Homo sapiens: one gene and its partners. The protein of the gene in region 2 purifies or fractionates together with the protein of the main gene of each other region. This does not show direct contact. Each region holds a gene or a part of one and is shown on either strand. Other genes may lie near its edges. The genes, in order: SEC13, NUP133, NUP160 and NUP98.

Evidence for each region.
Region 1: the proteins of NUP133 (region 2) and SEC13 purify together in Homo sapiens (affinity purification with mass spectrometry; 6 studies listed by BioGRID and IntAct, with this or other methods). This does not show direct contact.
Region 3: the proteins of NUP133 (region 2) and NUP160 purify together in Homo sapiens (co-immunoprecipitation; 4 studies listed by BioGRID and IntAct, with this or other methods). This does not show direct contact.
Region 4: the proteins of NUP133 (region 2) and NUP98 purify together in Homo sapiens (affinity purification with mass spectrometry; 6 studies listed by BioGRID and IntAct, with this or other methods). This does not show direct contact.

Annotation. Positions count from the first base shown.
Region 1 is NC_000003.12:10,317,937-10,325,487, forward strand, and holds the start of SEC13 (protein SEC13 homolog), read right to left. Parts: upstream 3,177-7,551; 5' UTR 3,117-3,176; coding exon 3,114-3,116; intron 3,106-3,113; exon of another isoform or gene 2,935-3,105; intron 2,729-2,934; exon of another isoform or gene 2,573-2,728; intron 1,381-2,572; exon of another isoform or gene 1,344-1,380; coding exon of another isoform or gene 1,203-1,343; intron 159-1,202; coding exon 114-158; intron 1-113. UniProt on the Homo sapiens protein: Functions as a component of the nuclear pore complex (NPC) and the COPII coat. At the endoplasmic reticulum, SEC13 is involved in the biogenesis of COPII-coated vesicles.
Region 2 is NC_000001.11:229,505,069-229,513,448, forward strand, and holds the start of NUP133 (nuclear pore complex protein Nup133), read right to left. Parts: upstream 3,274-8,380; 5' UTR 3,182-3,273; coding exon 3,000-3,181; intron 1,091-2,999; coding exon 972-1,090; intron 1-971. UniProt on the Homo sapiens protein: Involved in poly(A)+ RNA transport. Involved in nephrogenesis.
Region 3 is NC_000011.10:47,810,270-47,817,715, reverse strand, and holds part of NUP160 (nuclear pore complex protein Nup160), read left to right. Parts: intron 1-1,686; coding exon 1,687-1,770; intron 1,771-2,066; coding exon 2,067-2,237; intron 2,238-4,300; coding exon 4,301-4,400; intron 4,401-4,668; coding exon 4,669-4,834; exon of another isoform or gene 4,835-4,849; intron 4,850-5,286; coding exon 5,287-5,414; intron 5,415-5,491; coding exon 5,492-5,652; intron 5,653-7,446. UniProt on the Homo sapiens protein: Functions as a component of the nuclear pore complex (NPC). Involved in poly(A)+ RNA transport.
Region 4 is NC_000011.10:3,717,402-3,724,847, reverse strand, and holds part of NUP98 (nuclear pore complex protein Nup98-Nup96 isoform 1 precursor), read left to right. Parts: intron 1-1,392; coding exon 1,393-1,691; intron 1,692-4,022; coding exon 4,023-4,136; intron 4,137-5,297; coding exon 5,298-5,436; intron 5,437-7,446. UniProt on the Homo sapiens protein: Plays a role in the nuclear pore complex (NPC) assembly and/or maintenance. NUP98 and NUP96 are involved in the bidirectional transport across the NPC. May anchor NUP153 and TPR to the NPC.

The DNA of each region.
Region 1 (7,551 bases), on a different chromosome or scaffold from region 2:
CCCTGGATCCATGAATGATCAACAGAAAGGGGTAATGAAAACCCCAAATTGCTTCCCTCCCACAAAAATGCCCATGTCCACACCCCTCCAGGGAGGGTGATATTAATACTTACAATCATGTCCTCATGGGAGGTATCCACAGTGTTAATTACTGACACCTAGAACCAAAGATATCACTGGTAAATTAACTCATGGCAGTTAGAATACAACCATCTCAAGTTCTTGACTGCATTTGTTTGTTCACTCACTCATTCATTCATTCATTCAGTAAGCATTCATTCTAAGTACCTTCTTTCTGCCAAGCACTGTGCTAGGAACTGGATATACAGACACAAATAAGAGGAACTTTTTGCCCTTGAGAAGCTCGCGAATAATGCTAGTGTCGCAAGATAAATTATTTAATGGTGGTTTGTGTGTCCTGTAGGAGCCTGAGGGGCTGGGGTGGTAGACACGAATTGAGCCCTAGATGATGGGTAGGAATTTGCAGGTGGCACAGGGGAAAATACCAGTCCAAGCAGCCAAGCAGAGGGAATACACGAGTAGAGACAAAGAGGTCTGAGAGAGCCTGATGTGTGTGGGGAAACGGCAAGCAGTCCTGGCTACCCTTAAGGTTGAGGAGAGACCCCAAGGGAGCTACAGCTGGTGTTCCTTTCCTGGATGACAGAGCCTCTGATGTTCCAGGCAGTTTATGCATAACGGGGTTATTACTTCAGACTGGGAGACTTGATTCGAGTGTTTCCTGAGGCTGCTCCCTGGTCCGTCACGTAGTGGGATCCAGAGTTGAACAGTTTGTAGGGCTGGAACATGGTGTCATGGTCATCTCCCTCCTATCTATTCTTTGAGGTCCAGCTCAAAAAGGGCCATCCATCACCTTTCTTGAAGATTCTCAGACCCTCAAATGGCTGGACTCTCTTGCATATCTTCAGCAAGGAACACATACAACACTTTATGCTGTTTCTTCTCCCCACTAGAAGGTGAGCTCCTTGGAGCCATGGTCTGAGCCATCTGCAGTTTCAAATCCCCTCAAATCATCCAGCACAGTGCTTTGCAAATAGAAGGAACTCAGCGACTATTTGCTGAATGAATAAGTAAATGAACAAAAGCTGTTATTTTTTTTCTTTGCTCAACCACTCTTCTCTTAAATTCTTGGGATAGAAAAGAGGACTTAAAAGAAGTTTCAGTGTGGAACAGACATTTCTTACCATTTTCCCCATTTCATCTTTTCCAGCACAAGCCCTGTAGGTATAAAGTTTGACTTGTGATTTCAGAAAGGCAGACAGTGGAAGAGGATGGCTGCAAAGCAGTTCAAGAGGTACACACCAAGTAAGCACAGGTTCTCTCATCAGATTCTAGACTCTCTAAAAACCAGGTCCCCGAAGTCTGCAAAGGCAAGTAAGGACAATAAGGAGTTTCCTCCATGTGCCGAGCTGTATAGGTTACAAAGTGCACAGGAAGGCGGGGAGGGCAGGGTACCAAGGGCACAGTCAATCAGAGACCTGCGACAGACTAAGGAAATGAAGAAGCCCAGAGAAGAGAAAGCACTTGCCAAAGTCACAGAGCTAGTTCAAGGCAGACCTGGGAAAAGAGCCCCATCCCCTAACCTTCTAATGCTGAGTCCACAAAACTTCACTCCACCAGGCTGCCTGTCTAGAATGTAAAGCAGTTGTTACACTGAGTTCTGTAAAGCTGCGGTTAAGTAGGTTCACGAAGAAAGTTTACTGAGAGGTAGTTTCAACCAGGTTACCAAAGGACCTTAGAAATAATCAGCATTTAATTCTAACCACTCTCACCCACCAGTCAGGGTTGATGAACCACACTTCTGAATGAGAGAGAGAGAGAGAGAGAGAGAGAGAGAGAGAAGGCGGGGGGGGGGGGGGGGGAGGAAAGAGGGAGGGGGAGAGAAAAGGACGGAAGGAAGGAGGAAGGGCGGGAGAGAAAGGGAGAGGGAGAGGAAGGGGGGAGGAAGAGGGAGCGGGGAGAGAGAGAGAGAAGAGAGGGAGGGGGAGAGAGAGAAAGGGAGAGGGAGAGGAAGGGGGGAGGGAGAGGGAGTGGGGAGAGAGGGAGGGTGGGGAGAGAGAGAGAGAGAGAGAGAACTTCTTAGAGTACTTCTTCCCAGGGACCTGGTATTATCTGGTCCCTGTTAACACCTGCACTCAAAATAATTCACCTCTTTGAGATCAGATAATGAGTTAAAAATTCATTTAGGATGAGCTGAATGTCAGAGCATAAAAGCCTCAACTCTAACCTGCAGTGGAAGAGCCAGAGGTGAGTGATTTACACCTAACCCTCTGCAGAACAAGAACACAGTGTTCTGATTTCTAGGTTCCTGCAGGTTCCCTCAAACCTGCTGCTGAGACACACCCATGTTTCTAAAAGAATGCATGTACTAGATATTCCAGGCTCAGCCCAGATACTTCCATTCTTTAGTTCTCCTTCAGTCATTCATTCACTCAAGGAGTAAGTGTGGAGTGAATGTACACTGCAGATGCCACAGAGACTTAAAAAACCCTGAGCCCCTGCCTTCGGAGGGTCGTTCAGGCCATCTTTACGTTTCCCGAGGTGCCCATCCTACCTGGGGGCCCTACCCCGAGCAACAGTTCAATCATCTCTGCTGGGAGCTGCAGTAGGCGGCAGAAAGGAATGGTTAGGAGGGTTCAAATCTCGGCTCTACTACCACTTAAGCAGCTGTGCAAGAGGCTCCACGTCTCCGAACCTCAAGTGTCCTCATCTGTAAAGTGTTGAGAAGAATAGCACCTTCTTCACAAGGCTGTTAGCAGGCGGAGATTACGAACAATGCTGAGGGCTCGGTATACAGTAGCTCCTCTGCTGTTCCTCGTTTTGTTTTCAATTGTTGACCGAAAAGAAGGAAGGGAGACTGGCAGGAGACGCAGGAGCGGCGCGCCCCGCAAAGTCAGGGAGGTTCCTCGGCCTCACCTCTGGACTCCCCTCGGAATGGTCCGCAAGGACGGGGCCAGAGCCCCCCAAATCTCTAAGCGGTGGAGGGGAGCTGAACGGCTCCAGCTTGGGATTTGGGACTCAGGACGGCCGAGGAACCCGTGAAGGCCGCGACCGTGGCCTTCACCCTGCTAGGCCTCCTCAGTACCAACACTCACCATGATTGCGGCGGTGGCTGCTCCAGGTCTCGGACGTGGCAGCTCCCGGCGGCGCCTCGGAACAGCTCACTTCCGGCGCCGGGCCCGACGGGCCGTGGCGTAGGAGCCTCCGGGCAGCAACGCGCTCGGCTCGCACAGCAGTTCCGCGCCTTCCAGAGGGCGCGCCCCGCCCTCCCGTGGCCCAGCCCCTATCCTCCAGTGACGTGCGAGACCAGAGGGCTGGGGCTCTGGTTGCCGCAGTTACCCTGACCCGGAGGGCTTTGGAATCTGAAGCTCTGGTGGGTCTACTCTCCCGACCAAGTCTGCCCTTTTCCTGAGATCCATAAATGAAAGAAAGGATTAATATAACTATCGGCCGGGCGCGGTGGCTCATGCCTGTAATCCCAGAACTTTGGGAGGCTGAGCTGGGGGGTGGATCACCTGAGGTCAGGAGTTCGAGACCAGCCTGGCCAACATGGTGAAACCCCGTCTCTACCAAAAATACAAAAATTAGCCGGGCATAGTGGCGCGCGCCTGTAGTCCCAGCTACAGGCTGAGGCAGGAGAATCGCTGGAACCCGGGAGGTGGAGGTTACAGTGAGCCGTGACTGCACCATTGCACTCCAGCCTGGGCAACAGAGAGACACTCTTGTAAAAAAGAAAAAAATCTATCTATCTATCTATCTATCTATCTATCTATCTATCTATCTATCTATCATCTATCTATCTGCAGCTTCACCCGCCTCACTACGGCTCTGGGTGCGACTGGTCTTATGATGAATGTTGTAGGATGAGTGACATCTTAGGAGTAAGTAGACTGTCCTAGTGCTTCCTTGTTGTAGTCTCCCTCTCAGTACCCAAGGACTGGGACCAGGGCAGAGGAGGCCAGGGAATGCCCCTCGCCAGAGGCTGGGACCTCTGGCCCTGCCATCCCTAACCCCTATATAGGACTGCCCCTTCCAAACCGATCCCCTGGGGTCCTGAGTAAGTCCCATCAAGGAGACCCCCCTAGGCAATGAAGGATCTCAGCCAGGCTCCTGCAGCTAGAGCCCCAGACCTAATCCTCAGGGTCCCCAACCCCAGGTCTCTGGCTTCACAAGGTAGGGCAGCTGAAGGCTCCCCACAAGCGCAGTGAGAATGCCACACTGGAGGACAGAGCCTGGGCTCCCCGCCTCAGCCACATATGGTCTAGCCCTGGGCCCCTTGTGACATTAAGGAGGCAGATGAGCTGGGGGAGGCCTTGGCTCCCCTTGGGCAAGTCACAGTCCTTCAGTTTCCTCTGCTGAAACTGGGAGTAAGGACCCTAGCTGGAGATGGTCACTGCTTGAAGGAAGATGTTAAGGCTCAGAGAATGTGATAGACCCAAACTGTCAAGGAGCTTTGGAGGGGAGGCCAGGGGAGTAGGGTGTTAGAATTAAGGGCCAGGCCTCTGGGCAACTCTTCTACCCCACTGCAGCTTTCAAGATTTTTTATTGCCCTCTAGTGGAGAAATTGTTGCAGGGGTGTGAGGGGGTGGTGGTTAGGTTAGAGCAGGGAACAAAGGCAGGTTTCAGGGGATCTCTTGGATCTCCTGTTGTTTTTTTTGTTTTTTTTTTTTTGGAGATGGACTCTAGCTCTGTTGCCCAGGCTGGAGTCCAGTGGTATGATCTTGGCTCACTGCAACCTCTACCTCCCGGGTTCAAGCAATTCTCCTGCCTCAGCCTCCTGAGTAGCTGGGATTACAGGCATGTGCCACCATGCCTGGCTAATTTTTGTAGTTTTAGTAGAGATGGGGTTTCACCATGTTGGCCAGGCTGGTCTCAAACTCCTGACCTCTGGTGATCTACTCTCCTCGGCCTCTCAAAGTGCTGGGATTACAGGTGTGAGCCGCTGCGTCCTGCCAGATCTCCTGTTCTTCAAGGAACAGGCTCTGGCCTTGGCTCTATAGCTGCACCACTGACTTTCTAGGTGATAAGGCCAAGTCACTTTTCTCTGAGCCTCACTTTCTTTGAGTGGAAAATGAGGACAAGGGCATATTAGATGTAAATATAATGCATCAGGCATAATTGTGATTAAAAGAATTTCCTTGTGTAGACACTGATGTTGAAGAGATTGGGGATTTGTGACAAGCAACAGAACTGTATCTTATTCATTAAGGTATTTGCTGTAAGGTATTTGGCCCATAAGGCGCTGTAATATGGCAGTTTAGAGTACAGATGCTGGCATCAAGACTGCTAGGTATCAGTGCTGGATCTCCTGCTTACCAGGTGGGCATGCTCTTCACCTCTTTGAGATGCTGTCTCCTGCTCTTTTGAGTGAGAATTATAATAATACCTCCTCTGAAGGTTGATATTGGGATTAAATGAACCCTTGGATATGAAACTGCGTATGGAAGTCAGATGGGCCTATGGCGCTTGATTTGGGGATCAGTTCAACCTAAGAAGAGCTGTGTGAGTGTGTGAGTGTGTGTGTAACTCTCAACCCTTGGGCCAACCTTAGGGATTACTTGTTGGTCTGGGCATATTCTCTTTCTCTGCCAATGTTCAGCAGAGGTTTGTGAAGTCCAGACTCCTCAGGTGCCAGGCTTCCCTCTGCCTTACCCCTCTCCCCAGTAGGGGGGTGCCACCTAGATCCAGTGTCTGTATTCCGCATCTCCTCCCTCTGGTTAATCCAGACCCCAAATCAGGCCAACTTTCCCTGATTTTTGCCCCCCCACCCCTTGCCCCCAAACCTCCTCCGCTTCGTCCTGAGGCCCCGTTCCCCAGTCTTCTTCTATGAGATGGTCAACCATTCCTCATAGGTTAATGGCTCATGGCAGGGTGAGCCTGTCTCCCTCAAATGGTGGGTGTTCAAAAGGTGTGATCTAGTGGAAGGAGAGAGACTGCCCGCTGAGCTGTGGGCCCTTGGGCAAAGTGCATTTCCCTCCCAGGGACTCAGTTTCCCCCTGAGTTCAACTCCACGAAGGGCGGGGACCCAGCTGTCCTTCAGAAAAAGGCCTTGTGATGTGTACCGTGTCTGCATTTCCACGTGTGCATTTATTGTTATTGCTCAGTATAGTGTTGAAAAGGCAGACAAATCCCATTAATTACAAAGAGCACAAGCCAAAGATACAGAGAAATAAAGAGTGTACAATAAGAGCACAGTCACTTCCCAGCCCCGATTGTCCCAGAGCCCCCCAGAGCCCGGGCAGCTTACGGAAGCTGGAGGCGGCACCATTCCCTCGCTACTCTATTATAAAATATGTGCACACAAGAGTTAGCAAAGTGTGGTGACCCCCGAGAGGAAAGGTCCAGGAGGGAGAGCACCACAGGCATTACAAAACAGACTTAGGGGGCTGAGAAGGGCAGTCCCAAAGCAGCCTCCAATATTGTTTTCAGTGGAGGGGGTGATGGCTGCTGCCTGGGGCTGGGGACCCTCCTCCCCCACCTGGGTTGGTATGATCTCTACATTAAAATCAGGAGAGCTTGGTTTGGAACTTTGAAAAGGCCTGGGGACTTCCTGCTATTGTCTGACTTCCCTCCTGGCTCTGGAAGGCCTAAAAGCCTTCAAGAAACGCTCTTCCCTACAAGAGCCTCTAATGGTGGGATTTTGGACACAATGGCAGGAGAGAGATTTGGGTGGGAGGCTTGTCAGAATGCACCAGGTTGGCAGCCTCCTGCAGGTAGCGCAAGAGTGGGCTAGGGGAGTGAGGGTTCCGAGAAGGCCCAGGCAAGAACTGCCTGCATCCCAAAGGTACTGGAGACTCCAAATTAAAGAGCAAGAAACTATCCCCCCAAAACAAAATGAAACAAAAACAACAAAAAACCAGTTCAGGAAAGGGAGATAGGAATAAAGGTTTCTCCATGATGAGAATTAGAAGTGCAGACAACTGGGCCACACATTCTTTCCCAGCTCCAGGCCTAGGAGAGACTCCTCTTTCTCGTCTGGACCAGGGACAGATGGCGGGTCCACCCCAACACAACCAAGGTGGGTGACTTTGGTTCCCAAGCTGAGATTGAGTGGGGGCCTGGTGACCTCTCATGACAACTCCTGGGCTTAGGGGGCAGGTGAAATGATGGGAGGAACAGCAGGCTTCTCTCAAGATCAGGATGCCCTTTTTGTCCCTCTTTACAGAACATAGTCTATTTCACAGCCCTGAGTGGACAGTAATTACAATGGGGGGAAGATGATGGCACAGGGAATGACAGAGCCCAGAATTTGGGGGTGGGAATGGGACAGGGGGTGGAGGACTGGGCACAATTTAAAGTTTATGTGGAAGAATAGATGTGAGAGAATAACTAGGAAATTTTGTAAAAGAAGAGTGAAGGGACTCATCCCACCACATAATAAGACATTAGAAATTGACAATAGTTAAAATTGTATGGCTGGTGCCAGATGAGACACCCAAGTAAGCGAAGAGAAGAGAAGTTCCAGAAATAGATCTAAGTCTATGTAAGACATCAGTGTGTGGTAAAGGTGGCATTTCAGCATGGTTGGGGAAA
Region 2 (8,380 bases):
GCTATCGTAAGTGTATTTTATGTGTGACCCAAGACAATTCTTCTTCCAAGTGGCCCAGGGAAGCCAAAAGATTGGACACCCCTGAGACTATCCAGCTGTTTGTCACTTAGTAGCTGTCTCAGTTACCAGATGAACTGTCGCAGTAATGCAATGCTTATATTCTCATTTTAGTTAATGACCCCAAACGAAGTACAAGAGTAGTGCTGCTGGTATATTGTTATAATTGTTCTACTTTATTATTACTGTTGTTCATCTTTACTGTTCCTAATTTATAAACTAAAGTTTATCATAGGTGTGTATGTATTAAAAAAACACAGTATATATAAGGTTTAGTACTATACAAGGTTTCAGGCATCCACTGGGGATCCTGGAAGATATCCCCCAAAGATAATGGGGGACTACTGTACAGTACCTAAAACCATTAAAGACTTAATTTGATTGTGTTCAAATGAACTCATTCTCCTTCTCGAATGTATTATACATCTCAATTACAGTTAAAAAAAAAAAAAAAAAAAAAAAAAAAAACTAAGACAGGTGGCCAGATGTGGTGGCTCACGCCTGTAATCCCAGCACTTTGGGAGGCCAAGGAGGGCAGATCACCTGAGGTCAGGAGTTCAAGACCAGCCTGGCCAACATGGTGAAACCCTGTCTCTACTAAAAATACAAAAAATTAGCTGGGCGTGGTGGCTCACACCTATAATCCCAGCTACTTGGGAGGCTGAGGCAGGAAACTCGCTTGAACCTGGGAGGTGGTGGTTGCAGTGAGCTGAGATCACACCACTGCACTCCAGCCTGGGTGACAGAGTGAGACTCTGTCTCGAAAAAATAAAAATAAAAAAACACTAGACAGGCCACCCATCTCTCACCATTTACGTAAAGGTATACTAGAGAAAACATAAATTTAATCTCTATGCCACATCTAGGCTCCATTTTAAACTGCTAATATAGGTAAATGGAAAGATGACACCTACCTTCAGCCAATGTTAGGGCTTCCATGACTTTAACAGGAAGAGAAGATCCAAACGTTTTCACATCATAGTTCACAGACTCAGTTATGGAGTGGTGTGGGAACATTCGTGTTGGTGTTCCCCTAAAGAAAAGAGTCTATATTACCTTACTTGTAACTTAAAATTCTCCATTATCCTAATTTTTTATGTATATATTTTCACAGTAAGGAGTTCTTTGAAAAAAATTAACACTGGCTCATATTTACCATGTAATTAAATGTAATATTTTTCATGTAAAAAAAAAACAAAACAGGATTTAGGAAAACTTGGCTTCAATCCCATAGACTCTAGTATTGAAATGCATGCCTGTATTCACTTAAACTCCTTATAATTCTGCCTCCTTAGCTGTGAAATAAGGCTTAACTAGACCAGTGTTTTTTTTTTTTTTTTTTCAAACAGCGGGTCATTTTGCAGATCTCAACATTTTTGAAAGACAGAATATAAAACATCAGCTTTTACCATATGTTGTGGTCAAATACATTTTATAAATATTGGCTTAGATGAGATTTAAGCTCATCTAGCTTTAGGTGCTTAAGAGTCCACCAGACCTGGCCGGAGCAGTGGCTCATGTCTATAATCTCAGCACTTTGGGAGGCCGAAGCGGGAAGACTGCTTGAGACCAGGAGTTCAAGACCAGCCTGGGGAACGTGGCAAGACCTTGTCTCTACAAAAAAAATTTTAAATTAGCCGGGCATTGTGGCACCAGCCTGTAGCCTGGGCGACAGAGAGTGAGACCCTGTCTCTTTAAAAAAAAAAAAAAAAAAACTATCAGATCTGTACAACCAAGCAAGAAATCGAACAGGTTACGAGCATCAGCTGTTACATGGTCCTCAACAGCAGATATCACAGTAAAAACTTTATTTCTTGCTCACCCTCTTAACATTTAGAATATTGTAAAGTCACCAGAATAAAAGGTAGTCTATGTCTTATCACGAGAATTAAATGAGAAGATGCACATACAGAAGGGCTAAGGGCTTTGTTTCCTGACAGAGGATAACAAAGGTTTTTCTTCAAATGATCACAAGAAGAGATTTAAATAAAACAACACACAGTAAATAAAGTATGCTTTTATTCTCCAACTTTTCGCAAAAGGAATAGAAAACACTGACAAGATCAGCACTTTGAAAAGAACTTTTCAAAATATGCCAAAAAAAGTCAAAGATACAGTGTATTCTTTCAAAACCACTTCTCCTTTAAAGTACTGAAAAATTTTACAGATAAATTTTAACCATAATTTCAAGACACAATACTTTGTGTTTCCTGCAGGGAAAAATTCATTTTTTATAGATGAATTCAGAGAAAACTATGCAGAAACACTAAAGTTTTAGGTTAATTATGAACATGGTGTGTGTTGGGGGTGGGGAGGGGTGTGTGTGTGTGATGATTTTACTGGTGCTCCAAACGAGCAGTTTTAGTAACTAAACTATCACAGTACTCTTAGCTCACTTATGTAAAGCCTTTTCCTTATAATTTACCTAGAAAGTTAAATTCCGTAGCTAGAAACCCTTTAATTACCAATCATCAGATATTAATGTCAGTTGGTATGTTAGGCATTAAACAATGATCTTTCAGGGTTGTAGGTCCTCATTATCACCATCACCTTACATCTGCATCGTGGCAATTCATAATAACTCCTCTGGCTCAGGTGAGATATATTATCGCCATTTCACAGATGAAGAAAATCACGAGTGACTTACACCAGATCACACGGGTAGTAGGTGGGAAGTAGGTAAACACTGATGCAAATCCAGTTTGTACTTCACTTCTGCACAAAGGTATCCATGAAAAATGCAAAGTGGGGAATCAACTGATCAACTGATAATCAAAACGAAGCAGATACTACCTGCAGCAGTGGAAAAGGTCTATTTTCCAATACTGTGGCATTCTATTCCGCCGCCCCGGTTCCAAAGGCTTCTAAAGACAACAACCTATCCGGCCCACTGCGGCCCGTGAGGCTGTTGGTTGCCAGACCCAACCAGGGAGATCACTTACCGCGAGCTTAGCGAGCTACGCCGGCCGACCGGCGAGAAGAGCACTGGGGAGCTGACTGCAGACCCCAGGGGCAGACCCTTCCTGCTAGCCGTCCGGGGCGTGGAGCCGGGCCCGAGTCCGGCCAGCGGGCCCCTTCGGGACCCGGTACCCGGGGTCCGCGGAGAAGGGGCGGCTGGGAACATGACTCCAAGGAGCAGCGACTAGGACAGCGAGGGATCTGGCCGTCAGGTTGCAGCCTGGCCTGCGCGCGGAACTTAAACACCTAAGGGAAGAGATGGCGCGCGATGATGACGTCAAACGCAATGGCTCCCGCGGGTTGTGGTCGGAGCGCTGGCGGGGGCGGGATCGTGACGTTAAGGGCGGTGCCCAGTCAGCGAGGTAGGTCGGGAAGGCAGCCGGCGGCCCCAGATCTAGAACCGCTGCAGTGCCGAGCTTCCAGGGACGTGAAGCCGGAAAGCCAGGCGCCCTTCTTGACTGCGCCTAGGTGGAACTGGCCCTCCAGCAGCTTGAACGTAGCCTCTTTTCACACTGGTAGTTCCTGAACCTCTTGTGAAATGAAAGATGTTCCTCATTCCAAGCTGAGGACGGAGAAAAGCCGTAAAGCTGACACTGGTATCGCACTGTGATATTTGTTGTTTTCTAGGTTTGCCATTTTCCCATTCAACTTTGCGCAGTCTCATCCACGCTGATGACGCCACAAATCCGTGTCTCTAACCTGGATCCAGCTCAAAACCCCCAGACCCCTATCATTCAGCTCCCTAGGGGACAATTTCAGCTGGAAGTCCTGCGAACTCCTCACAATCCACTTATGAAAAGCGCATTCATGTTTTCCTTTAGGACCCCTCTCCTACCACCATCTCTGTTCCAGCTTGGTAAAACTGGCCAGTTGTCCAAGGCAAAGAGAAGAGCTCTATCTGCAGTCATCCCTCACACCTACCTCCACCCTAAGATCATGGTATACGTTGTAAGGTCCTACGTGTCTGTACTAGATCACACATTTGCACTGCCTCTGCCCTGGTTCTGGTACTTACCTTTCCCTCAACCACTGCGTAGCCTCTTCTGCCAGCGGGAGGGAGTAGGGGAGATGGGGAGAGGGTTCCTTACCTGTGTCTAGTCTTCCTCCACTCTATCTTCTCACTGCCAACACAATGAATTAAGGCAAACGTAATGCTGCTCTTGGGCCTGTAAATGCTTCAGTGGCTGACCATTGCCAGTAGGTTATTTGCTAAGCTCCTTTGCAAGGTCCTATGTGATCTAAGTCAGGTTGGCTTTTCCGTCCGTGTTGTACTTCCAGCACTTCCCACTTGCACTCCACATTCCGAGAACTTAAAAACCCAAATCTCCCTCCAGTGCCCATGTCCATGTTTCTCTCACCTGGAATGCACTCCCTGCCTTGTTGGTCCAGAAGGCGCCTACCTTCCGCATCAAGTTAGTTCTGTGCTGCCTTCTCAGTGAAACCTTCCACAGGATTAGGTCCCCCTTATCCTTTGTCCTCTCTGCTCCTGTGTGTAGACTGTATTTTTATCCTGCATAATAGTTTGTTTTCATAATTGTCTGTCAAGTACTTCCTTTTAAATGTCTTGACAGCAAGAGCAGTGACTTTGTTACCTTTGTGGCACACAGTAACAGACACATAGTAGACTTTCATTCAACGTGTGTTGAAATAAGGGAATGGTTAAGTAAACATTGACGTATTCACATGTGGGAGACCACAGTGTGGGTGTCAGTTGTTGACATTCCCCTGGGAAGCCAGTCATCTATCTATGCACCAGTGGCATCTGAGCAGTCATCTTGCCAAGGTTACATAGGCTAGCTGCTTTACTCCTTCTCCCACCTGGGTGTCTAACCCAACTTGGCAGCTTGTTGAGTCTTATAGCTCTGAGAGCCCAGTGCATTTCCTCCCTGTTTCATTCTTACAAGGAGGGGTGTGAAATAGGCAATAGAGAGTATTAATAGTTGTGTCTGAGAGGATTGGTGGGATCAATTTTATTCTTGTGCTTTGTTGGACTGGTTAGTGGTTTCCCCAGCATCCTAATGTAAAAGCTGTTGTTTGCAGGAGCTAGAATGACTTGTCAGCCACCTTTGAGCAAGAACTTGCCTGGAGTCCAAATGTATGGCTATTGAAGGATAGTAAGCAGACAGCACTAAAAGTCATCCATTCGTTATGGATTTAGTGAGTACCTACCATGTGCCAGGCTATGTGATAATTGCTAAGGCTTATAACTAAACAAAGCCCATGGGTCCTACCCTCATGGAGATTACAGACCAATGAGAAAGACAGACACTGAAAAAATGAACACAAATATCCAGCTACAAGCTGAGATGTGTACTATGAAATAAAAGAGCAAAGTGTATGAGAGAGAATCACTGGGGCTACCTATTTTTGCATGGAGGTCTATAAAGGTCTCTGGGAGAAAAGGACGTTTAACCTGAGACATGAAGCATAAGAGAATAGGAGGAAGAATGTTTCAGGCAGAGGATCCTTGGCCAAAGGTCCTGAAGCAGCAAAGGACTTGGTGCATTCTAGGAACTTTATTTATTCTTATTTTACTTTATGATTTTTCTAGAGATTGGGTCTTACTCTGTTGCTCAGGCTGGAGTGCAGTGGCGTGATCAAAGCTCACCACATCCTTAACCTTCTGGGCTTCAGTGATCCTCCTGCCTCAGCCTCTGAGTTGGGACCATGGGCATGTACCACCACACCTGCCTATTTTTTATTTATATATATATTTTTAGAAATGGGGTCTCACGGCCAGGCATAGTGGCTCACGTCTCTAATCCCGGCACCTTGCAAGGCTAAGGTGTGGGAGGATGGCTTGAGGCTAGTAGTTCAAGACCAGCCCCTGGGCAACATAGCAAGACCCTGTCTCCCCAAGAAATTTTATTTTAAATTCTAAAAAAAATACAATTAAAAAATGGGGTCTTGCTATATTTCCCAGGCTGGTCTCAAACTCCGGGTCTTAAGTGATCCTCAAGCCTCAGCCTTCTGAGTAGCTGGGATTAGAGCCAGAGACTTTAAACAAACAAATCAACCTGAAAGACTAAAAGTAAAGGGAATTGGAGAAATAAGGAGAGACCATGAAGGGCCTTGTAGGCTCTGTCAAATAAGATCCTAGAGAAGGCCAGGCGTGGTGGCTCACACCTGTAATTCCAGCACTTTGGGAGGCCCAGGCAGGTGGATTGCCTGAGGTCAGGAGTTCAAGACCAGTTTGGCTAACATGATGAAACCCCATCTCTACTAAAAATACAAAAAAATTAGCTGGGCATGGTGGTGTGTGCCTGTAATCCTAGCTACGTGGGAGGCTGAGGCTGGGGAATTGCTTGAGCCAGGAAGGTGGAGGTTGCAGTGAGCTGTGATGGCGCCACTGCCCTCCAGCCTGGGTGACAGAGCAAGAAATGCAAATCAAAACCACAATGAGATATCATCTCACACCAGTTAGAATGGAGATCATTAAAAAATCAGGAAACAGCAGGTGCTGGAGAGGATGTGGAGAAATGGGAACACTTTTACACTGTTGGTGGGACTGTAAACTAGTTCAAACATTGTGGAAGTCAGTGTGGCGATTCCTCTGGGATCTAGAACTAGAAATACCATTTGACCCAGCCATCCCATTACTGGGTATATACCCAAAGGAATATAAATCATGCTGCTATAAAGACACGTGCACACGTAGGTTTATTGTGGCACTACTCACAATAGCAAAGACTTGGAACCAACCCAAATGTCCAACAATGATAGACTGGATTAAGAAAATGTGGCACATATACACCATGGAATACTATGCAGCCATAAAAAAGGATGAGTTCATGTCCTTTGTAGGGACTTGGATGAAACTGGAAACCATCATTCTCAGCAAACTATCGCAAGGACAAAAAACCAAACACCGCGTGTCCTCACTCATAGGTGGGAATTGAACAATGAGAACATTTGGACACAGGAAGGGGAACATCACACACCAGGGCCTGTTGTGGGGTGGGGGGAGGGGAGAGGGATAGCATTAGGAGATATACCTAACGTAAATGACGAGTTAATGGGTGCAGCACACCAACATGGCACATGTATACATATGTAACAAACCTGCACGTTGTGCACCTGTACCCTAGAACTTAAAGTATAATTATATATATATATATCAAGACTGTCTCAAAAAAAAAATCATAGAGAAAACAGATGGTACCCTCAGGCTAGGTAGTTAAAAGAATTTAATAAAGGAATGTTAGAGGCTGGGGGTGGTGGCTCACACCTGTAATCCCAGCACTTTGGGAGGCCAATGAGGGCAGATCACCTGAGGTCAGTAGTTTGAGACCAGCCTGGCCAACATGGCGAAATCCTGTCTCTACTAAAAATACAAAAATTAGCCATGTGTGGTGGTGCGCATCTGTAGTCCCAGCTACTTGGGAGGCTGAGGCAGGAGAATCACTTGAACCTGGGAGGCGGAGGTTGCAGTGAGCTGATATTGTGCCACTGTACTCCAGCCTGAGTGACAGAGTGAGACTCCATCTCAAAAAGTAAATAGGCTGGGTGCAGTGGCTAACGCCCGTAATCCCAGCACTTTGGGAGACTGAGGTGGGTGGATCACAAGGTCAGGAGTTCAAGACCAGCCTGACCAACATGGTGAAACCCTGTCTCTACTAAAAATACAAAAATTAGCCAGGCACAGTAGCTCACGTCTGTAATCCTAGCACTTTGGGAGGCCGAGGCGGGCAGATCACGAGGTCAGGAGTTCGAGACCAGCCTGGCCAATATGGTGAAACCCCATCTCTACTAAAAATACAGGAAGTAGCGGGGCGTGGTGGTGCGTGCCTGTAGTCCCAGCCACTCGGGAGGCTGAGGCAGAAGAATCACTTGAATCCAGGAGGCGGAGGTTGCAGTGAGCTGAGATTGCACCACTGCACTCCAGCCTGGGCCACAGAGTGAGACTCCGTCTCCAAAAAAAAAAAAAGAAAGAAAAAAATACAAAAATTAGCTGGGCATGGTGGGTGCACGCCTGTAATCCCAGCTACGCAGGAGGCTGAGGCAGGAGAATCGCTTGAACCCAGGAGGCAGAGGATGCAGTGAGCCGAGATTGGCCACTGCACTCCAGCCTGGGCAACAGGGCAGAAAAAAAAAAATAAAATAGTAGCAGTTCATATTGAAAAGGCTATGGGGAAACAAGCACTGCTTACATATCTATCTGGTGGGACTGTAAAAGTACAATCTTTTAAGAGGACAATTTCTATTAAAAAGCCTTATAATTACTTGGCAATTTCACCTTAGAAATTTATGTGAAAAAGTCAAATAACAAAGACAGTATTGTTTATAATAGTGAAGGAGGTAGAAAGTAACATAGATGGCCAACTATAGATTTATAGTGCATCCACATTATGGAAAACCGAAAAAA
Region 3 (7,446 bases), on a different chromosome or scaffold from region 2:
TGGTTATACTGTTTTAACCTTTTTATTAGGACAGTGAAGGTCTGACTTGGTTCAGATTCAAGAAAACTCTAGGCCGGGCGTGGTGGCTCACGCCTGTAATCCCAGCACTTCGGGAGGCTGAGGCAGATGGATCACGGGGTCAAGAGATCGAGACCATCCTGGCCAACATGGTGAAACCCCGTCTCTACTAAAAATACAAAAATTAGCCGGGCGTGGTGGCACACGCCTATAGTCCCAGCTACTCGGGAGGCTGAGGCAGAAGAATTAATCTCTTGAACCCGGGAGGCAGAGGTTGCAGTGAGCCAAGATTGCGCCACTGCACTCCAAACTGGCGGCAGAGTGAGACTCTGTCTCAAAAAAAAAAAAAAAAAAAGTTTTTGGCTTCAAATTCATTGTATAAGAGAAGCCCAGTGCTTTACAAAAGGATTCTTTGGCCAACGGTAGTGACTCACACCTGTAATCCCAAAATTTTGGGAGGCTGAAGAGGGAAGATCACTTGAGCCCAGGAGTTTGAGAGCAGCCTGGGCAACAGAGGGAGACCCCATCTCTAAAAAAAATAATAATAATAGAAAAATAGCCAGGTGTGGTGGCATGCACCTGTGGTCCCAGCTACTCAGGAGCCCTAGGTTGGAGGACTGCTTTAGCCCAGGAGGTAAAGGGTATGGTGAGCCTTGATCATGCCACTGCATTCCAGCCTGGGAAACAGAGTGACACCCTATCTTAAAAAAAAAAAAAAAAACTGAAAGGATTTTTTAAGGTTACAAAGGCTTCTGGCTGGGTGCAGTGGCTCACACCTGTAATCTCAGCACTTTGGGAGGCCAAGGGGGTGGATTGCTTGAGCTCAGGAGTTCAAGACCAGCCTGGGTAACATGGCAAGATTCCCATCTCTATTAAAACAACAACAAAAAGTTACATAGACTTTTTTTTTTTTTTTCCCTTTGAGGCAGGGTCTCGCTCTGTTGCCCAGGCTGGAGTGCGGTGGCACGATCTTGGCTCACTGCAACCTCTGCCTCCTGGGTTCAAGTGATTCTCCTGCCTCAGCCTCCCAAGTAGCTGGGACTACAGACGCATGCCACCACACCCGGCTAATTTTTGTAGTTTTTAGTAGAGACAAGGTTTTGCCATATTGGCCAAGCTTGTCTCGAACTCCTGGCCTCAAATGATCCACCCGCCTCAGCCTCCCAAAGTGCTGGGATTATAGGCATGAGCCACCACACCCAGCTTGCATAGGCTTCTTTAAATTACTACTTAGCTTCATGGATGGATTTAAAATACAATAACTCATATAATTGAAAATTATATTAGAATATTTTAGACTGACCTCCCACATAAAACAGAAATGCCTTCTGAGGCTTTTGTGATAGTTATTCAGCCTTTAATTGTCTCTACCTCCACTGACCACTTTGTCACTACCTCTTGTGGGAGTTATTATTCCCAAACTGTGTCATTGAAAAGGAAGCCTCTCTTCTATAAATCAACCCTTCAAGTATTTTAAGAATCTTTCCAGGTCACCTTTCTCCAGACTAAATACACCCAGTTTCTTAACTTTCTCTTGGGTGATGTGTGTTCCAGGTATGCCAAATCTCTATTATATAGTTTTATATTGCCTCTATGTCTTCTAAACTGAAACGTTTTCCATTCAGTTTTGGCTATTATATAGAAGTCTAAAATGTCTTTTAATGTTAGATTTTCTGCCGAGGAACTGAGAGGAATTTGGATCTTTCCTGGAGTGAACTGAAGAAAGAAGTTACTTTAGCTGTTGAAAATGAGGTGAGGCTTGGGTAGAGAAAGAATAAGAATTCCTTCCATCTTGATATAGGGCAGATTGGTACTGACCGAGGAATTACTGGAATTCTTCACTTGACCTTGTTTGTTGGAACATATAAATGTTTAAACCTTTTAACTAGAGAATCAGATACACATTTGCATAGTCTATGGCCTTTAATACGTAAGGAATATTCATTTGGCTGTAGCTTAGTATAATGATATTGGACAATTATGTTTTTTGTGGACAAAGATCCTGAATGGCATCAAAAGTTTAATTTCTTTCATTTCTTCTTTGCCAGCTTCAAGGAAGTGTAACAGAGTATGAATTCTCCCAGGAGGAGTTTCGAAATTTACAACAAGAATTCTGGTGCAAGTTCTATGCCTGTTGTCTTCAGTATCAAGAAGCCCTCTCTCACCCTCTTGCCCTACATTTGAATCCACACACAAACATGGTGTGCCTGCTGAAAAAAGTAAGTGAGCTAAAGCATAGAGAAGACCTTCTTGAGACAGTTCAGTGGCTGTTATAACAAAATGCCTTCAGAAAACAAAAAGTTCAGTGGCTCTTGCCGAATGTTAGTCTGGTGAATGTTGCGGTTAGCATTTAGGACTTTGCATTTGTATTTTTTCCCCTAAAATTGTGATTCATTCATTTAAATAGTTTTCTGTGTTATTCTCTATACTTTTTTTGTATTTTATTGTATTTATTTCTTTTTCTTTTTTTCTCTTTTTTTGAGTTGGAGTCTTGCTCTGTCACCCAGGCTGGAGTGCAGTGGTGTGATCTCAGCTCACTGCAACCTCCGCCTCTGGGATTCAAGCAATTCTCCTGAGTACCTGGGACTACAGGTGTACACCATCACACCCGGCTAATTTTTGTATTTTTAGTAGAGGTGGGGTTTCATCATATTGGTCAGGTGGGTCTTGAACTCCTGTCCTTAGGTGATTCACCCGCCTCAGCCTCCCAAAGTGTTGGGATTACAGGCGTGGGCCACCACACCCGGCCTATTTACTTTTTATATTGAAGTAATTTCCAACTTAAGGTAAGAGTTACAAGAATAGCACAAAGAATTCCTGTATACCCTTCATCTGGATTCATCATTTGTTAACTTCCATATGCTTTTCTTCTTTCTCTAAACAGTTTTTCCTGAACTACTGAGAAGTTAGTTGTAGATATCATGCTCCTTTATCCTTAAATATCCTTAAATATTTCAGCATGTATCTAAGAACACAGATATTAAATAACCACAGCCCAATTTAAAAATCAGGTTATTTGATATTGACATAATATTATACAGCTTATATTCAAATTTTGCCAAATATAACATATATATATATATAGTTTATATTCAGATTTTGCCAATTGTGCCCATAATTTTTTTTCCTGATCCAGGATCCAATCTTTTTTTTTTTTTTGAGACAGTCTTGCTCTGTCGCCCAGGCTAGAGTCCAGTGGTGCAATCTCGGCTCACTGCAACCTCCGCCTACTGAGTTCAAGCGATTCTCCTGCCTATCCTCCAGAGTAGCTGGGATTATAGGCACGCGCCACCACACCTGGCTAGTTTTGTATTTTTAATAGAGACGGAGTTTCGCCATGTTGTGACCAGGCTGGTCTCAAATTCCTGGGCTCAGGTGATCCGCCCACCTTGGCCTCCCAAAGTCCAGGATCCAATCTAATATATGTATTTAGTTATTGTGTCTCTTTAGCTTAACCTCAAACTGTTATCAGCGTTTCTTTGTCTTTCATGAGAATGATGTTATTTGAAGACTATGCTTGTTTCTTTTTTTTGTTTGTTTGTTTGTTTGTTTGTTTGAGGCAGGGTCTTGCTGTGTCACCCAGGCTGCAGTACAGTGGCACTCTTTTTTTTTTTTTTTTTTTTTTTTGAGACAGAGTCTCGCTCTGTCACCCAGGCTGGAGTGCAGTGGCACGATCTCAACACACTGCAACCTCTGCCTCCTGGGTTTATGCCATTCTCCTGCCTCAGCCTCACCAGTAGCTGGGACTACAGGCGCCCGCCACCACACCTGGCTAATTTTTTGTATTTTTAGTAGAGACGGGGTTTCACCGTGTTAGCCAGGATGGTCTCGATCCCCTGACCTCGTGATCCACCCACTTCAGCCTCCCAAAGTGCTGGGATTACAGGCGTGAGCCACTGCGCCCGGCCCAGTGGCACTCTTAAGGCTCACTGCAGCTTCAACCTCCCAGGCTCAGGTGATCCTCCCACCCCAGCCTCCCTAGCAGCTAGAATTAAAGCTGTGTGCCACCACACTTGGCTAATTTTTTTTTTTTAGAGATGGGGTTTCATCATGATGCCCAGGCTGGTCTTGAACTCCTTGGCTCAAGTGATCCTCCCACCTCAGCCTCCCAAACTGCTGGGATCACAGATGTGAGCCACTGTGCCCAGCCAAGACTTACACCTATTATTTTATAGAGTGTATTGCAACTTGGGTTTGCCTCATGATAAGATGCACATCTCAATTATTTTATACCTTTAAAATTTTACTGACAAAAATGTAACTGGAAAATTTGTATTTCCAGGGGTACCTGTCTTTCCTTATTCCCTCATCCTTAGTGGATCATTTGTATCTCCTGCCTTATGAGAACCTTTTGACAGAAGATGAGACAACCATATCTGATGGTAATAGTAATTGTTATGTCCATATTTAATCCCCTTCCTATATAAACCCTATGCTTCGTTTCACATGGATACAAAAAATATCGATTGCCACACCTGTCTTGGTCACTTTACCACACCACAAATATTTTAATGAACACTTAAGAGACCAAAGCATCTCTGAGACCTCAGATAGATTTCTTGTCATTTAATTATTAACATTTTAATGTAATATCAATCAATAGATTGTCATTGGCTTAAGACATAAATGTTAACTTTCTCTTATTTGTAGATGTGGACATCGCTCGGGATGTCATATGTCTTATAAAATGCCTCCGGCTGATTGAAGAGTCAGTAACTGTGGATATGTCAGTTATAATGGAAATGAGTTGTTATAACCTACAGTCTCCGGAAAAGGCTGCAGAGCAGATTCTGGAAGATATGATCACTATTGATGTGTAAGGAGAATTAGGGTAAAGTGCATTTCCTAATGGAAATTCAGCATTTTTAGCGCCAAAGTTGGAATTTTAATGTATGTTCCAGAGCGTACAGAATAGTAGCTTAAAGTCAAACTGATGCGCCATGATTCTAAGTACATATTTCTACTTTTAACAGAAAATTTAACACGACTTCAAGTCTAGAAATAGACTTATAAAATATGCTTTAACAATTAACCGAGCTAAAAATTCTAAAAAGCAAAAGTGTTCTTCTCATGTTTGTTTTGTGTGTTGTTTATGAAAAACTGAGAGGAAATTTGCTATGCATAGGGACTGTATCTTATATGCCAGAGTGATTATCTTCATTCCTTTATCTGGTTCTCTTGTTTCATAATGTATTTAGCTTATAGGACATATAGAACTTGCCTTACGTATTCTCGGTAGTAATAAGAGTTTTGTAATTGTCCTTATAGAGAAAATGTGATGGAGGATATTTGTAGTAAACTGCAAGAGATTAGGAACCCAATCCATGCAATTGGACTACTTATACGGGAAATGGATTATGAAACAGAAGTGGAAATGGAAAAGGGATTCAATCCAGGTAAATGACAGAACAACAAATGTGCCTCTTTGATTAAAACAATGATGCATTCAACTCCATTTTTCTTCTTTTTACAGCTCAGCCTTTGAATATTCGAATGAATCTTACCCAGCTCTATGGTAGTAACACAGCAGGGTATATTGTGTGCAGAGGGGTGCATAAAATCGCCAGTACTCGTTTCCTGATCTGCAGAGATCTTTTGATCTTACAGCAGCTGTTAATGAGGCTTGGAGATGCTGTAAGTACTGCTTGAGGGAAAACTTGTAAAATCTAAAACCTGTTATAGGCCTACAAGCACTTAGGAGCAAAATGTCAGCCCTACTAGCACAGATACTTTTGTCTTGGTTCACTGCTTTATTCTCCCAAGCTTGGCCTTATGAGATGCTCTATAAATATTTTTGAATTAAGAATGAATAAGCATTGTAATCCTTGTGAGAGTATAGATTAAGAGCATATATGGAGGGGACGGTGGGGAGGGAGAACATCAGAAAGAATAGCTAATGGATCCTGGGCCTAATACTTAGGTGTTGGGTTGATCTGTGCAGCAAACCATCATGGCACACGTTTACCTACGTAACAAACCTGCACATCCTGCCCATGTACCCTGGAACTTAACAGTAGATTTTAAAAAACATACATGAAGCAGATTGCTTTACTCTTAACCTTTGTATGTGTAGTAGTGGAAAATTTTCCCAAGTTGGCTCTCCCAAAATGTAGTATTATTAGTAACTATGAATGTGGTAAGCATACCCTTTAGTATGGAGGAAGAAAAAGAAAACTCTTTTTTTTTCCTGTCTCTCTCTCTTTTTTTTTTTTTCTTGAGACAATCTTGCTCTGTTGCCCAGGCTGGAGTGTGGTGGCCTTATCTCAGCTCAAGCAATTCTCCTGCCTCAGCCTCCTGAGTAGCTGGGATTACAGGTGCGTGCCACCGTGTCCGGCTAATTTTTGTATTTTTAGTAGAGACAGGGTTTCACCATGTTGACCAGGCTGATCTTAAACTCCTGACATCAGGTGATCCACCTACCTCGGCCTCCCAAAGTGCTGGGATTACAGGCATGAGCCACCTTGCCCAACCTAAGAACTCTCTACAGTGCAAGGCTTACCCTAAACACAGTTTTGAGATGCAGGTTTATCTTTGTGGTCCTCCTAACTCTATTCTGTGCTTTCTTTTTCATTCTGTTCTTCTTAGACCACCAGACTCTTGTTGCTAATATATAGTCCTAATCACCCACCCTACTGAATGTCCCATGCTAAGAAATTATTTTTCTCCCCACAGTCAGACATCCCATTTTTTTCTAAGTCAGTAATCTCATTTGAGCCTGTCAAAGAAGGAATCTAATTAAACCAATTCATATTAATGTGTAAATAGCCAAAAGTCCTTTGGGGCTCCCATTTTAATTCTGACTTAAAATGTATAAATGTACTTATACATTTTAAGTCAGAATGTATTAACTCAGGCTGGGCACAGTGGCTCACACCTGTAATCCCAGCACTTTGCGAGGCTGAGGTGGGCAGATCACTTGAGGCCAGGAGTTCGAGACCAGCCTGGCCAACATGGCCAAACTCCATGTCTATTAAAACAAAAAAGTTAGCGGGGTCTGGTGGCACACTCCTGTAATCCCAGCCATTCAGGAGGCTAAGGCATGAGAATTACTTGAACCCAGGAGGCAGAGTTTGCAGTGAGGCAAGATTGCACCACTGCACTCCAGCGTGTGTGACAGAGCGAGATTCTGTCTCCAAAAAAAAAAAAAAAGAAATTATAAACCCAGATACATCGCTAATGGTAGAATTTCAAGCAAGAGTAAGAAAAAGGCCAGATGTGGTGGCTCATACCTATAGTCCCAGCACTTTGGGAGGCCAAGGTGGCCTGGTTGCTTGAGCCTAGAAGTTTGAGACCAGTCTGGGCAAACCCTCATCTCTACAAAAAAATACAAAAATTAGCCGGGCATGGTGCAGCAAGCCTGTAGTCCTTGCTACTTGGGAGGCTGAGATGGGAGAATTACCTGAGCCTGGGAGGTTGAGGCTGCAGTGA
Region 4 (7,446 bases), on a different chromosome or scaffold from region 2:
TATTTGACACCCTTTAGCCCTTTAAGGGATATTTTGTCTGTGATGATTTTCTTTCTTTTTTTTTTTTGAGACAGAGTCTCACTCTGTCGCCCAGGCTGGAGTGCAGTGGCATGAGCCAAGATCGCCTCCCATGCTCAAGCGATTCTCCTGCCTCACCCTCCCATGTAGCTGGGAATACAGGCACCCGCCACCATGCCTGATTAATTTTTGTATTTTTAGTAGAGACGGCGTTTCACCTTGTTAGCCAAGGATGGTCTCGAGCTCCTGACCTCAAGTGATCTGCCCGCCTTGGCCTCCTAAAACGTTGGTATTACATGCGTGAGCCACCGTGCCCAGCCTTGTACAGTGATTCTTAATAGTTAGGTATATATTCTTTCATATCAGAAATTTATTTATTTATTTTTTTTTTTTGAGATGGAGTTTTGCTCTTATTACCCAGGCTGGAGTGCAGTGGCACGATCTCGGCCCACTGTATCCTCTGATGTGAATTGTTCAAGCAATTCTCCTGCCTCAGCCTCCTGAGTAGCTGGGATTACAGGCATGCACCTCCACGCCCAGCTAATTTTTTTTGTATTTTTAGTAGAAACAGGGTTTCGCCATGTTGGTCAAGCTGGTCTTGAACTCCTGACCTCAAGCGATCCACCCGCCTCGGCCTCACAAAGTGCTGGGATTACAAGCGTTATCCACCACACCCAGCCGAAATTTCTTTCTTTATAAATATATTTTATTATATAAAGATTATGCACGAATGATATATTCTGTAACCTGCTTATTTCCATTTATTTTATTAGAAATGCCTTTCCATTATCTGTATGAATATATTTGTCTTTTCTTTTTTAATGATTGCATAAGTCATTATTGTGAATGTAAGATAACTTGACCAGTTCCTTGTTAGTGGACATTTAGATTATCCGGTATTCCTGTACTCAAAACAGTGCTTCAGTAAAAATCCTTATATACTGGCACAAGTTCTCAGGGCCTCCTGAGGGCTGTATCACGAAAAAGAAAAAAAAAAAAAGAAACCCTTTGTATAGACACCTTTGTACTCCTGTTTTTTTTTTCTTTTGGATAAAATTCTAGTGTTTTTTATTATTATTATTATTTATAAAGCATTTTTTAACATTTTGTTGATTGTAATCTTAAAAATCTAACATTTTTTTCAGTTTTTAATCTTAAAATTAACCAATTATTTGATTCCATATAGGAGAGTATACAATAGAGATAGTAATTATCTGTTTCACAGTACTGCTGTAGTAAGTATTAAGTGAATTTTTAATACATGGAACTATCCAGAACAGTGCCAGGCACTTAGTAAAGGCTCGGTATTAGTTAGCTATTATCATTGTTATTACTACTACAAGAGGCTAAGGTATTATTTCTTTTCCTTTGCAGATTTAGTTTCCTAAGCAAACCTGTTGATGAGAATCACCAGCAGGATGGAGATGAAGATTCCCTTGTTTCACATTTTTATACTAACCCTATTGCCAAACCTATTCCTCAAACCCCAGAAAGTGCTGGAAATAAACACAGCAACAGCAACAGTGTGGATGATACCATTGTTGCATTAAACATGCGTGCTGCTTTGCGAAATGGGCTGGAAGGAAGCAGTGAAGAAACGTCTTTTCATGATGAGTCACTTCAGGATGACCGAGAAGAAATAGAAAATAATTCTTACCATATGCACCCAGCAGGTCAGGTTCAGATTGGTGCATGTTTAATCTCTTACCAGTCATTCGAGATGACTTGCTTGTTGCAGATATTCAACATATGGAAGTCAGCTGTTTGGCATTTTAAGTATTATTTTATGTGATCCCACATAGGAGAGCTTAATATTTAAACAGTTTTATGCTTTAGTTGATTCAGAGTTCACATACTCTTTGGACCTTAGAGTATGAAAATTGATACATCTTTAATTATCCTGGTGTAGTCTAAAGAACCCAAATTTTATAGCCAAAGAGACTATCCTGATATTTTCCCTGGCTTTGTAAACTCGGATAGATTGCTTATTGTTTTTTGTTTGTTTGTTTGTTTTTTCTTGAGACAGTGTCGCTCTGTCGCCCAGGCTGGAGTGCAGTGTCGCAGTCTTGGCTCACTGCAACCTCAACCTCCAGGGATCAGGACCTCTCATCTCAGCCACCCGAGTAGCTGGCACTACAGGCACATGATACCACACCCCGTTAAGTTTTGCATCTTTTGTTTTGCCATGTTTCCTGGGCTGGTCTCAAAATCCTGGGCTCAAGTGATCCTCCTATCTTGGCCTCCCAAAGTGCTAGGATTACAGGCATGAGCCACCATGCCCAGCCCATTTTGGGTGTTTTGTGGTATTCTTGAAGTGTCTCCAAAATTTATATTTAGTTTTCTTATTGCCATTATATATATATATATATTTGGTTACTTAGTATCATAAGGAAAGAAGTTTATACTTTGACAGTAAGAATCCCAGGTAGCCTGGGTGTGGTGGCTCAGCACTTTGGCAGGCTTAGGTGGGAGGATCGTTTGAACCCAGAAGTTTGAAATCAGTCTGGGCAACATAGCAAGACCTGATATCTACAATAAACTTAAAAGTAATTAGCCAGGTGTGGTGGCATGTACCTGTAGTTGCAGCTACTACGGAAGCTGAGGTGGGAGGATCACTTGAACCCAGGATTCAAGGTTGCAGTGAGCTATGATTATGCCACTGAACTCCAGCCTGGGTTGACAGACCAAGATCCTGTCTCCTAAAAAAAAAAAAAAAAAAAAAAAGAATTCCAGGTGCTTAATCTGTATTTGTGTATGTATCTCTACATGAATTTATTATGCTACTATATATCTTTTTAATAGGAAGTTTTATATTCTAGTTTTTTCATTTACCTTGTTTGCTGCCACCCAATTTAGAGTTCCCTTCCCAAGAAGCAAGTATACAAGTGGGTGTTGCTGGAGGCTGGAGTTTGGTCTGATGTTGGCCTGAAATACTTTTCTCTCAGAGAGCAAGTTAGCCTTATATCTGACTACAAGTAGGACAAGGAGTGAATAGAGCAAGCAAGCACACCAGCGTTCCACTACTTTCCTTGAGTTTTTCAGCGCTCTGCTTTTTTTATTTTGGTATTTTTTTTTCTATTTTAATTTATTCTTTCTTTCTTCTTTTCTTCCTTCCTCCCTCCCTCCCTTCCTTCCGAGTTTCACTCTTGGTTGCCCAGGCTGGAGTGCAGTGGTGTGATCTCAGCTCACTGCATCCTCTGCCTCCCAGGTTCAAGCGATTCTCCTTCCTCAACCTCCCGAGTAGCTGGGATTACAAGCACCCGCCACCATGCCCAGCTAATTTTTGTATTTTTGGTAGATAATGGATTTTTGCCATGTTAGCCAGGCTTGTCTTGGACTCCTGGCCTCAAGTGATTTACTCACCCCGGCCTCCCAAAGTCCTTGGATTACAGGCATGAGCCACCTTGCCTGGCTGGATTTTTCATCTTTCTTTTAGCTCTTTATTTGGGAGTGTAAATTTGAAAAATAAAAGAGGTTTATGCAAAACAGGCAATGAAACAAGAAGAATTGGGTTTGGAGTTTTATATCTACTTCTATTGTTAAATTACAGTATAAGCCAACACAAGTTATTTCCACTGTAGGTTTTGGTATCCTTGTGTGTAAAATAAAATAAAAAGCTGATTAAGCTTTTCTCAGAGTATTTTATGAGATACCTTTTATAGTCCGGGATGTTAATGGGTGTCCTTTGAAAATAATGTTCTGTGGTTAAATCTGGAAAAACACGAGGTTAAGCAGAGTTTAATAGGCTATTTACTGTAAGTTTTAGACTCTTTGATGTATCATATGTATGTTCTTCAAACCTATTTGACCATGAAGCTTTTCACACACACACACACACACACACACACACACACTCACACACCCCTTCTCCTAGGAATCATGTTTGGTAGAAAAGTAGTTTGGAAAATTCTTCATTCTGATATATTTTCTCTTTATATGATGATTTAGTTGCTGATTATTTCAGGTTATTTTTTTTTCTGTTTTTTTTTTTTTTTTTGTCACAGGTATTATTCTCACTAAGGTTGGTTACTATACTATTCCATCTATGGATGACCTTGCTAAAATTACCAATGAAAAAGGAGAGTGCATTGTCTCTGATTTCACTATTGGTCGGAAAGGTAAGTGTGAGTTTAGCACTTAGTGATTAAGCCAGAGAGTTGCACCTTATTTTTGTAATTAGGGGAAGCTTTTGATAGCTGAATCTTCATTTTCCTACATTTGGGCCCACCTTGGCCTGAATCTTAAATACTTTGATTGATAAGTAACAAAACAAGAAAGACTGGAACCATGTAAATTTTTTTATTTTTATTTATTTTATTTTTTCTGTTGAGATGGGGTCTTGCTACATTGCCTGGCAGATCTCAACTCCTGGGGTCAAGCATTTCTCCTGCCTCAGCCTCCTGAGAAGCACAGAACCATATAATATTCTTTGGGCTTAGGTATACCTGTTTGGTGCTAGTAACTATTTGGGTCATTTTAATTTTCTGTAATTAAAGAAAATACTGGAAATACCAAGAACTTCTGAGAAAATTGAATAATAGGCAAGAGATGTATAACACTTAGCATGAACTTCATGTTATTATTACTGATAATTTTCTTGTGGGAAATGCCACTGTGCTATATTGTATTAAAAAGAGCTCAGGCATTTTAACCCATATGCCAGGCCAAGTGCGAAGGTTTGTTTATATAGCGTCATTATAGATAAATGGGAAGAGATTTAAGAAGGTTGTTTTGAGGCTAATGGGAGTTTTATAAAAATGCAGATGTTAGGCCTGTCGCAGTGACTCACACCTGTAATTCTAGCGCTTTGGGAGGCTGAGGTGAGAGGATCACTTGAGCTCAGGAGTTCTAGACCAGCCTGGGCAACATAGTGAGACCTCACCTTTACCAAAAGTAAAGAAAATGAGCCAGGCCTGATGATATGTGCTTGTAGTCTCAGCTACTTGGGAGGGTGAGGTGGGAGGATTGTTTCAGTTTAGGAGGTTCAGGCTGCAGTGAGACAGGACCACTGCACTTCAGTCTGGTCAACAGAACAAGACCTTGCCAAAAAAAAAAAGAAAAGAAAAGAAAAGAAAAATGCAGATTTTAAATCAGATAACAGTGTAATTGAAGTTACTCTCCCTAAGTCCCCATTCTTACCAGTCTAGGAATTGCTGAATTATTTAAAATACTAATACTTAAAACTGCTTTCTCCTTGTGATTGTTTAATCACTATAGTTGTAAAGTAGGTATTTGCCTTCATACAGAATGAATTTTTAACTATTTGCTCTGATTTATAGGTTATGGTTCAATCTATTTTGAAGGAGATGTGAATTTGACAAATCTAAATTTGGATGATATTGTGCATATCCGGAGGAAAGAAGTAGTTGTCTACTTAGATGATAACCAAAAACCACCTGTGGGTGAAGGGCTAAATAGGTAAGAGTTTATGTACATACAGAAAATTATCAGCTAAATCACAATTTTTTTTTCTGTAAACATAAATGTGTTTAGATGTATGCTTCTGTAGCTTGCTTTCCTTACTATAGAGTACATTTATTGTCTCTACTTTGATTTAAAAGTATAAATGGCAAAGAAATGCTATACTGTGATTTTGAACTCCTTTTCCCTGATTTTATTTTTTAATTCATTTTTTTACATTCCTTGGATTCGATTCTATTCTATTTTATTTCATTTCATTTCATTTTACTATTATTATTTTTTTTTTTTGAGATGGAGTTTTGCTCTTGTTGCCCAGGCTGGAGCGCAGTGGAATGATGTCAGTTCACTGCAACCTCCGACTCCCGGGTTCAAGCGATTCTCCTGCCTCAGCCTCCCAAGTAGCTGGGATTGTAGGCGCCCGCCACCATGCCTGGCTAATTTTTGTATTTTTAGTAGAGACAGAGTTTCACCATGTTGGCCAGGCTGGTCTTGAGCTCCTGATTTCAAGTGATCCTCCCACCTCAGCCTCCCAAAGTGCTGGGATTACAGGTGTGAGCCACGCTGCCCAGCCTCCCTGATTTTATTGGGTCCAACTGCTAATTTCAAAAACTCTTTTTAATAGTATTTTGCTTTATTCCTGTTTCTGCTGTGGCTATACTTAACTCTCTATTTTAGTGTGAGATCCTAGCTTCTAATATCTTAGTCAAGTGAAAGGGCTGTAGTGAAAATTATTTATCTTCATAACCTACCAACCCTGAATCAGGAAGAAATAGAAAATCTGAGCAGATCAATCGATCCTTTCCTTTCCTTTCCCCTTCCGCTTCTTTTCTTTTCCCTTTCTCTTCTTTCTTTCTTTTCTTTCTTTCTTCTTTTGAGACAGAGTTTCACTCCTTTGCCCAAGCTGGAGTGCAGTGGTATAGTCTCAGCTTACTGCAACCTCTGCCCCCTGGGTTCAAGCGATTCTCCTGCCTCAGCCTCCAGAGTAGCTGGGATTATAGGTGCCCGCCACCATGCTCAGCTAATTTTTGTATTTTTAGTAGAGACAGGGTTTTGCCATGTTGACCAGGCTGGTCTTGAACTCCTGACCTCAGGTGATCTGCCCACTTCGCCCTCCCAAAGTGCTGGGATTACAAGCATGAGCCACTGTGCCGGGCCAATAATTAGTAAAGAGATTGACTCAGTAATCACAAACTTGTCAAAAAAGAAAAACCTAGAATCAGATGGCCTCATTGGTGAATTCTACTAAGCGTTTAAAGAAATAACACCAGTCCTACTCAGACTCTTCCAAAAAATTGAAGAGAAGGGAATACTTTCACACTCATTCTATGAGGCAAGCGTTACCTTATTCAGTAACCAAAGACACTGCAAGGAAAGAAAACTACAGACCACTTGATGAGTATATTGATGAAAAAGTCATCAACAGAGCCCTAGGAAGCAGAATTTAACAGCGTATTGAAAGGATTACACATCATGGCCAAAAGATTTATTCTGGAATGCATGGATGGCTTAACATACAAAAGTCAGTGAAACATACCACTTTAACAAGATAAAGGAATATACCACATCATCATCATCATCATAATACAGAAAAAGTATTTACCAAAATCCAACACTCTTTCATAATAAAGGCACTCAAATACAGAAGGCTTTTCCTGTGAGACAAGGCAACACAAGGATGCCTGCTTTTGCCACTTTTCCCAAATATACTACTGCAAGTCCTGGTCAGAGCAATTAGGCAAGAAAAATAAAAGTTAATACAGTTTTGAAAAGTAGTAAAATTATCTCTGTTCTTTGATGACATCTTGTGTAGAAATCCCTAAAGATGCCACACAAAAAAACTTACTAGTTATAAACAAATTCAACAAAGTTACAGGATACAGAATCAACATGGAAAAATCAGTTGCACTGCTATACACTAACAACAAAAATTAAGAAAACATTTCATATATATAGTAGCATCAAAAAGAATAAAATATACACAAATAAACTTAACCAGGGAGGTAAATG